Homo sapiens: one gene and its partner. The main gene of each other region encodes a partner of the protein of the gene in region 2 in a complex. Each region holds a gene or a part of one and is shown on either strand. Other genes may lie near its edges. The genes, in order: CDK2AP1 and MTA3.

Region 1 (3,815 bases), on a different chromosome or scaffold from region 2:
AAGCAGTTCTCCTGCCTCAGCCTCCTGAGTAACTGGGACTACAGGCACGCACCACCACGCCCGGCTGATTTTGCTGAACCCATTTCTTTCTGATTCTAGGGAACTGGGAACAGCCAGGTGCCCCAAAGCAAATACGCGGAGCTGCTGGCCATCATTGAAGAGCTGGGGAAGGAGATCAGACCCACGTACGCAGGGAGCAAGAGTGCCATGGAGAGGCTGAAGCGCGGTAAGCCCGGCCCCGCTGCCCTGTCGGTGACCACAGTGCTAGACCTTTAACTCTGGAAAGACTTTTGGGGAAAATGTGGGAAGGTGGGCTAGGGATGAGGCTCACTCATGGGAGCTCCTGTCTTGTTACAGAGTTGCCGTCTGTGGTGGAGGCCTCAGGCAGGCGATGGGTCTGGTAGCGAGGGGCCTGGGGGGCTGGATGTCTTCAGAGGGGTCTTCTGGGAAGGGCAGCCCAGGCAGGGAGCCCTTCTTACCCTGTGTGCTGCCAGGGGGTCTGCTGGCTTTCAAGGGTGTGTTCGAAGTGCCCCCTGCCCCCGACCCTGCCTGGTCTGCTCCTGTGGGCCGACACTGGTCCTAGGGAAGCCAAGCTCAGGGTTCATCGGTGCCTGCACTGCCCTCTGCTGTCACCTCTTTGGAGGGAGACCCAAGGAAGTGTGTGGGTCTGTGCTAGGGTCTGGGGAGGGAGGCTGAGAGCACTTTGTTCTTTAATGGTTGGAGAGGGAGGGCAGGCAGGAGATGACAGAGCACAAGGGACTCGTGTTAAGGTGTGACTGTCCGTCTGATTTCGAAAGGACGTTAAATAGGTTGCTACCTTCTGAAATAAAAGGGGAGTGGAGGTAGGACAGGATTTCTATTTTAGAAGGCGACAGTGCAGCAGAGCCATAGCCCATGAACGCATTCAAGATGAGGGGAGACTTGGGGCTCTTTTTTTTTTTTTTTTTTTTTTTTTTTTTGGGAGACGGAGTTTTACTCTTGTTGCCCAGGCTGGAGTGCAGTGGTGCAATCTCGGCTCACCGCAACCTCCGCCTCCTGGGTTCAAGCGATTCTCCTGCCTCAGCCTCCCAAGTAGCTGGGATTACAGGCATGTGCCACCACACCTGTCTAATTTTTTGTATTTTTAGTAGAGACAGGGTTTCTCCAAGTTGGTCAGCCTGGTCTTGAACTCCCAACCTCAGGTGATCCACCTGCCTTGGCCTCCCAAAGTGCTGGCATTACAGGCGTGAGCCACCACGCCCGGCCTGGGACTTGGGGTTCTTAAAAAGGCTGGAGAAGCAACCTGGGAGAGGAACATTCTTTTTTTTTTTTTTGAGATGGAGTCTAGCTCTGTCACCTGGGCTGGAGTGCAGTGGCACGATCTCGGCCCACTGCAACCTCCGCCTCCCGGGTTCAAACAATTTTCCTGCCTCAAGCCTCCCGAGTAGTTGGGACTACAGGCGTGCGCCACTATACCCAGCTAATTTTTGTATTTTTAGTAGAGACCAGGTTTCGCCATGTTGGTTGGCCAGGATGGTTTCGATTTCTTGACCTTGTGATCCTCCCGCCTTGGCCTCCCAAAGTGCTGGGATTACAGGCGTTGAGCCACCGTGCCCGGCCTGGGAGAGGAACTTTCTTTGGTTGTAAATCTGTAGCATAAATGGGGGCTGTAGTTGAAGTTATGCCCCAGTGACACGAGGGCCAGTTGAGGACAGGCTGCTGCCAGGAGCGGGGTTGCTCTGGAGTTTATGAAACCTTTGTGAAGAGGTTGACGGGTCTCAAAGCTAGGTTGGGACTACCAGGGTTAGAGGATGTGATTGAAGAGGGCCTGGGGGAAGGGATGCAGAGCCCAACCCTGGTCTCGCCTGGAGAGTTGGGTGGTCCCAGGGCTGCTCTCCGGTAGCTGGGGTGCTGCTTACCTGAATGGAAATTCCTGGGAAGATGCTGGGTCCCAGAGTCCAACAGGTAATTTGCAGTCACCCAGAAAAGGCACTGGTTCAAGTCAGCAAATGCGTACAAACTGCCAGTCTTTTAGTAACAAGGAAGACCTAGTGCTACCCCTTGGCCAACAGCCAAGCCCAAGCTTACCAAGCTCATGTCACAGCAGGGTGAAAACACGTCATAGAGGGGTCAGGGAGTTAGGAGCTAGGAGCATTGTAGGTAGGTTGGCAACTACAGCCCAAGAGCCAGGAGCCAAGAATAGTGGTTTTTTTTTGTTTTTTTTTTTTTTTTGAGACAGAGTCTCGCTCTATCACCCAGGCTGGAGTGCAGTGGCGCGATCTCGGCTCACTGCAACCTCCGCCTCCCGGGTTCAAGCAGTTCTGCCTCAGCCTCCCGAGTAGCTGGGATTATAGGCGCCCACCACCACGCCCATCTAATTTTTGTATTTTTAGTAGAGATGGGGTTGTACCATGTTGGCCAGGCTGGTCTCAAACTCCTGACCTCAAGTGGGCAACCCGCCCCGGCCTCCGAAAGTGCTGGGATTACAGGTGTGAGCCACCGCGACAGGCATGGTTCTTAATGGTTGAAAAAAAAAATGATTTTGGGACGTGTGAAAGTTATCTGAAATTCAGACTTAAGTGTTCATAAATAAAGGTTTGTGGGTCCAGGTGTGATGGTGCATGCCTGTAATCCAGCAGTTTGGGAGGCTAAAGCCAGGAGCAACATAGTGAAACTCCCATCTCTACAAATAATGATAAAACAGCCAGGCATGGTGGTGCGTGCCTATAGTCCCAGCTTCTCCGGAGGCTGAGGTGGGAGGATCACCTGATCCTGGCAGGTTGAGGCTGCAGTGAGCTGTGATCGTGCCACTGCACTCCAGCCTGGGTGACAGGGCAAGATGCTGTCTCAAAAAAAATTTGAGTGAAGTAGTTGTGTCAGAGACTGTAGCCTGCAAAGCTCAAAATATTTGCTGTCTGGTCCTCACAGAAAACATTCTCCAAGGCTCTGAGTTAGTTTCTAAGATTTGTGAGGTGATGATGTGGGATGTCATTCCCAGTGGCCTCTGGGAGTCATGTATTAGAAGGAATAGAATCCTTAGTGTCTATTAAAAGATCATATTTCATGAAGTTCAGTAGAGGCAGAAAGAAAAAAAAGGTAAGCACCAAACCACAGAGACAAAAGACTGGGGAAGATTCATCGGGCAGAAGGTAGCTGCAGTCTTGTGGGGTTGTCCCCGTGGACCCAGGGTCCCGCGTGGGTAGTAGTCAGTTCTCTGCGCCCTCACGTGTGCAGCTGAAGCCATTCTCTTGCTTACTTACGCCGGTCAAGCCCTGTCTAGAATTCAGACTGAAGAAGCCAGAGAAAAATCTCCATAGTGGGTCAAGCAAAAGAATTTGGGTGGAGACATGTCTTTCATCCAACAGTGTCGTGGAAGGACAGCTTGCTGGTGCACCTTGAATGCAGGAAAAAATGTTTAGAGAGACAGGAAGAGTTGTGGTGAGGAGGGAAGGGCTTTAGAGAGGGATGGGATTGTTAGCGTCCTTCAGGGTTGCTTGGTTATAGGTTTCCCTGGTTCTCTTTATGTCTGAGGGTTTTGTGGACAGGCTGTGGAAGGATGGATCCTCTTGCTGTTTCAGAATGGGCTTTGCTGGCTGGTCCTGTGCACTTGCTGACCTCAGGTCTCTGCCTCTGTTTCAGGCATCATTCACGCTAGAGGACTGGTTCGGGAGTGCTTGGCAGAAACGGAACGGAATGCCAGATCCTAGCTGCCTTGTTGGTTTTGAAGGATTTCCATCTTTTTACAAGATGAGAAGTTACAGTTCATCTCCCCTGTTCAGATGAAACCCTTGTTTTCAAAATGGTTACAGTTTCGTTTTTCCTCCCATGGTTCACTT
Region 2 (3,815 bases):
AATGTCAAACATATAATAACACTGGCATTAATTAAACTAAACTGATTAGACTGCTTTAATGATTAAAGCCAGACATAGTTAACACTGATTAGCTTTAAGAAACTAATCCCCCAACTGCTTCAATTAACTAGCCTTAAAAAAAACAAAAGAGAAAGAAACTAATCCCACCAATTTTTAAAGCCACAACTGACGGAAATAATTTATTTCAGTCATTTAAACACACCTCGTCCAAACCCATTCCCAGAAAGCACTAGCTAAGTGTAAAATCACCAAGCCCTCCCCTAAGTATCCCATGTTCCATGGACAGTGAAGCTCTGCAGGTGGGAAGCAGCCATCATGCAGAATAGACCAGGTGACCTGGAAAAGCATTCTCTACACCAAGGAAGTCTATGAATCTCTAAGAGTCAATATTCTAAGCAGTACTTAGTTTACCTTCACATCTAAAAATATTAAAAACCTTGAGTTATGAACACTGAAACTCTCATTTCTTTTTGGCTACAATCTACAATGCAAACAATATTCAGTTAGGTTCTTCCAAAGTATGATGGCTTCAAAAAAAAATTCAGTTATGCTGTCATTTACTGCAGCTGGGGCCCAGGCTCCTGCTCTCCTATTCTCTAGAATTCTGAGAGCTCTCAAGAAGGTCAATCATTCATTACAAAGTTCCCTGTAAAAACACACAGATTATAATAAAATGCTATTGTGATTTCCATTTTCAAACAAGTGTGAGAACAAATTTTCAGAAATTTCTCTGGTCTTACAGATATACTCAAATACAAAGAAGAATATAAGTGCTGCAGTAAATTTGTCAATTTTATGAAGTCCAGCAGCCGTATTTTAGATTAAGAAATAGTCCTGTGGAAACAGTGCCCCTTAAAACTGAAATCATATTAAATTTCTAACCAAAGTGCTTCTATATTTCATAATATTGTGATCAAATACATTCTCCAGAAGTAATGATCCAGCAATCTGCTAAATGAACAGGCCAAAATTTCCATGTAAATAAAATAAAATCTATCAATGACTTCAAATATAAGCTCTTAGTCATTTCTGTCTTCTTGAGATATGCCTTGAAACTGCTGCTTTGGATTTTCAATGTGATTTTTGTCTCTTCTTGAGACATTAAAAATCCAGGCCGGGTGCGGTGGCTCACACCTGTAATCCCAACACTTTGGGAGTCCAAGGTGGGCAGATCACGAGGTCAGGAGTTCTAGACCAGCCTGGCCAACATAGTAAAACCCCATCTCTACCAAAAATACAAAAATTAGCTGGGTGTGGTGGCACACACCTGTAGTCCCAGCTACTCGGGAGGCTGAGGCAGGAGAATCGCTTGAACCTGGGAGGTGGAGGTTGCAGTGAGCCAAGACCACACCACTGCACTCCAGCCTGGGTGACACAGTGACAATCCGTCTCAAAAAAAAAAAAAAATCCAAATCAACAGTTTCAAGGCATATTTTTTTCTGCCTCACTAGTGAGTTCCTCCAATAGGGATGCTATACAAAGCTAATTAAATTCTTATTTAAACCTGCTTAGGGGGCGGGGAGCATAGTTCAAAATAAATAGTCTCTTCTTGACCATGCACTCACTTAGCTACTAGGTAGCTTACAGCTACCATATTCCTCTTCCCCTCTACAAACACACCCTCTCCAGCATTCTTCTGAAGCATGGTTACTCATGGGTCTACAGCCCAGTGCCAGTCTGCAACTGTTAATGGCATTTAATGAAATGAGTACAGGGTTTGAGACTAAGTGCATTACAGCAATTAAGAGTTCATTTTTATATATATATATATATATATATATATATTTTTTTTTTTTTTTAGATGGAGTACCATTCTGTTGCCAGGCTTGAGTGCAGTGGCACAATCTCGGCTCACTGCAACCTCCAACTCCCTGGTTCAAGCGATCCTCCTGCCTCAGCCTCCCAAGTAGCCTTTTTTCCCTAGCTTATCTATCAGAACAAAGTAAGTATTTTCAGTTTAGAGGTGGTTTTGTTTTGGTTTTTTTGTTTGTTTGTTGAGATGGAGTTTCACTGTTGCCCAGGCTGGAGTGCAATGGCACGATCTCAGCTCACTGCAACTTCCGCCTCATGGGTTCAAGCGATTCTCCTGCCTCAGCCTCCCGAGTAGCTGGGATTACAGGCATGCGCCACCATGCCCGGCTAATTTTGCACTTTTAGTAGAGACAGGGTTTCACCACATTGGCCAGGCTAGTCTCAGACTCCTCTCAGGTGATCCACCCACCTCGGCCTCCCGAAGTCCTGGGATTACAGGCGTGAGCCACCATATCTGGCCTTGTTTTGGTTTTTTTCAGAGATGGGGGGTCTTATTATGTTGCACAGGCTGGTCTCAAACCCCCAGGCTCAAGCAATCCTCCTGCCTCAGCCTCTCGAGCAGCTGGGACTACAGGCCTGAGCCACCATGCCTGTCTTCAAGTATTTTTAAATCATTATTTGGATTTTCCCATCATGTTAACAACTTTCCCTACCTAGCCAATTTCACCTCTGATCTTCCCAGGGCCTTTATCTAGAACACTCCTGCGTCCTCTCTTCCCATGGTTCCCTCTTCCTCATCCTTTAGGCCTCAACTTCAATGTCCTGTTCCACCCTACCTAAAGGAAATGACCTGTCATTCTCTATGTCAAGGTTCTTGCCTTCTTAGAAGTTAATACAATTCATTACTATTACTATTTTCTTTATGCCCATCAACTTGTCTTTCCGGGTGTCTCCCTCATTAGAATGTGGACCCTGTATGGGTAGAGACCATGTACATCTTGTTCACATTCTATCTCTGAGCCTAGCATAGTGCCTGGTACAAAACAGGTACTCAATAATATTTGCTTAATGAATTATCTAAAATAAGATGTCTTTTTCACATCCCTTCAGAAATAAAGACCCTATGTAAATATTTCAATTAGCCATTCAAACTACCATTTTGTGAAATTACAAAGAATCCCATCTCTCACAACACAACCCCAGTCCCAGAAACTCGCTATTACATGGATGACTCTGTGCTGACAACAGGTAGGCGGAGGGAGGAGGTGAGGATGGATGAGGGGGGCATTTCAGAAATGAATGGCCATGAAATGATAAAGGAGTGTGAAATAAGCTATGTTCACCTAGATGTGCAACCCAATAATTTAGCTACTATGTGCCTCAAGAAAACAATGCATGATTTAGCTACCTTAAGGTGTAAGGTTCTGTGAGGCTCAAAAGGGTAACAAACGTGAATCCTGGGTTAGGTTTCCAGAGCACCATGCTGTGACATTTCTAAACTTAGCACAGCTACAATTTTACTTTCACTTGTGGGACTATATGGTTGATGTCTGTCTCCACTAGACCTGTTTTTTTTTTATCACCCTTGCATTCTCACTGTCTAAAAGTACCTGGCTGGTAGAAGGTCCTCAATTTTATTTGTAAAATGAATGAATCAAAGCAGTTTGTAAATAGTAAAGCTATGTACACATAAGCATTAACATCAGACATTTCAGAAATTAATTAATTCAACAAGTATTTAGTGAATGCCTTTAACTATGTGCCAGCCACTATTCTAAGGCACTCAGAATGCATAACTGGACAAAACAGAAAAGATCACTGCAGCTGACACTCTAGGAAGACAGGTAATGAAAATAAACACAGTAAGTATATTTGGAGGTGATAAATGATATGGAAAAAAGAGCAAGGGGTGAGGGGTAGGACGGACACAAATAAACGGTCCTCCTAAGGTGGTTGCAGGGAGAAACAGCCAAAAGCCCATTGTGCTTTGTGCCAAGTAAGCAAGGCAGAGCTCCCACCTGCTTTCAGCGAAAGTGGAGGTC

The links.
Region 1: MTA3 (region 2) and CDK2AP1 share a complex: the UniProt entries of both Homo sapiens proteins name them as parts of the nucleosome remodeling and deacetylase (NuRD) repressor complex.

Annotation. Positions count from the first base shown.
Region 1 is NC_000012.12:123,261,607-123,265,421, reverse strand, and holds part of CDK2AP1 (cyclin-dependent kinase 2-associated protein 1), read left to right. Parts: intron 1-99; coding exon 100-226; intron 227-3,618; coding exon 3,619-3,686; 3' UTR 3,687-3,815. UniProt on the Homo sapiens protein: Inhibitor of cyclin-dependent kinase CDK2. Also acts as a component of the histone deacetylase NuRD complex which participates in the remodeling of chromatin.
Region 2 is NC_000002.12:42,575,097-42,578,911, reverse strand, and holds part of MTA3 (metastasis-associated protein MTA3), read right to left. Parts: intron 1-3,815. UniProt on the Homo sapiens protein: Acts as a component of the histone deacetylase NuRD complex which participates in the remodeling of chromatin.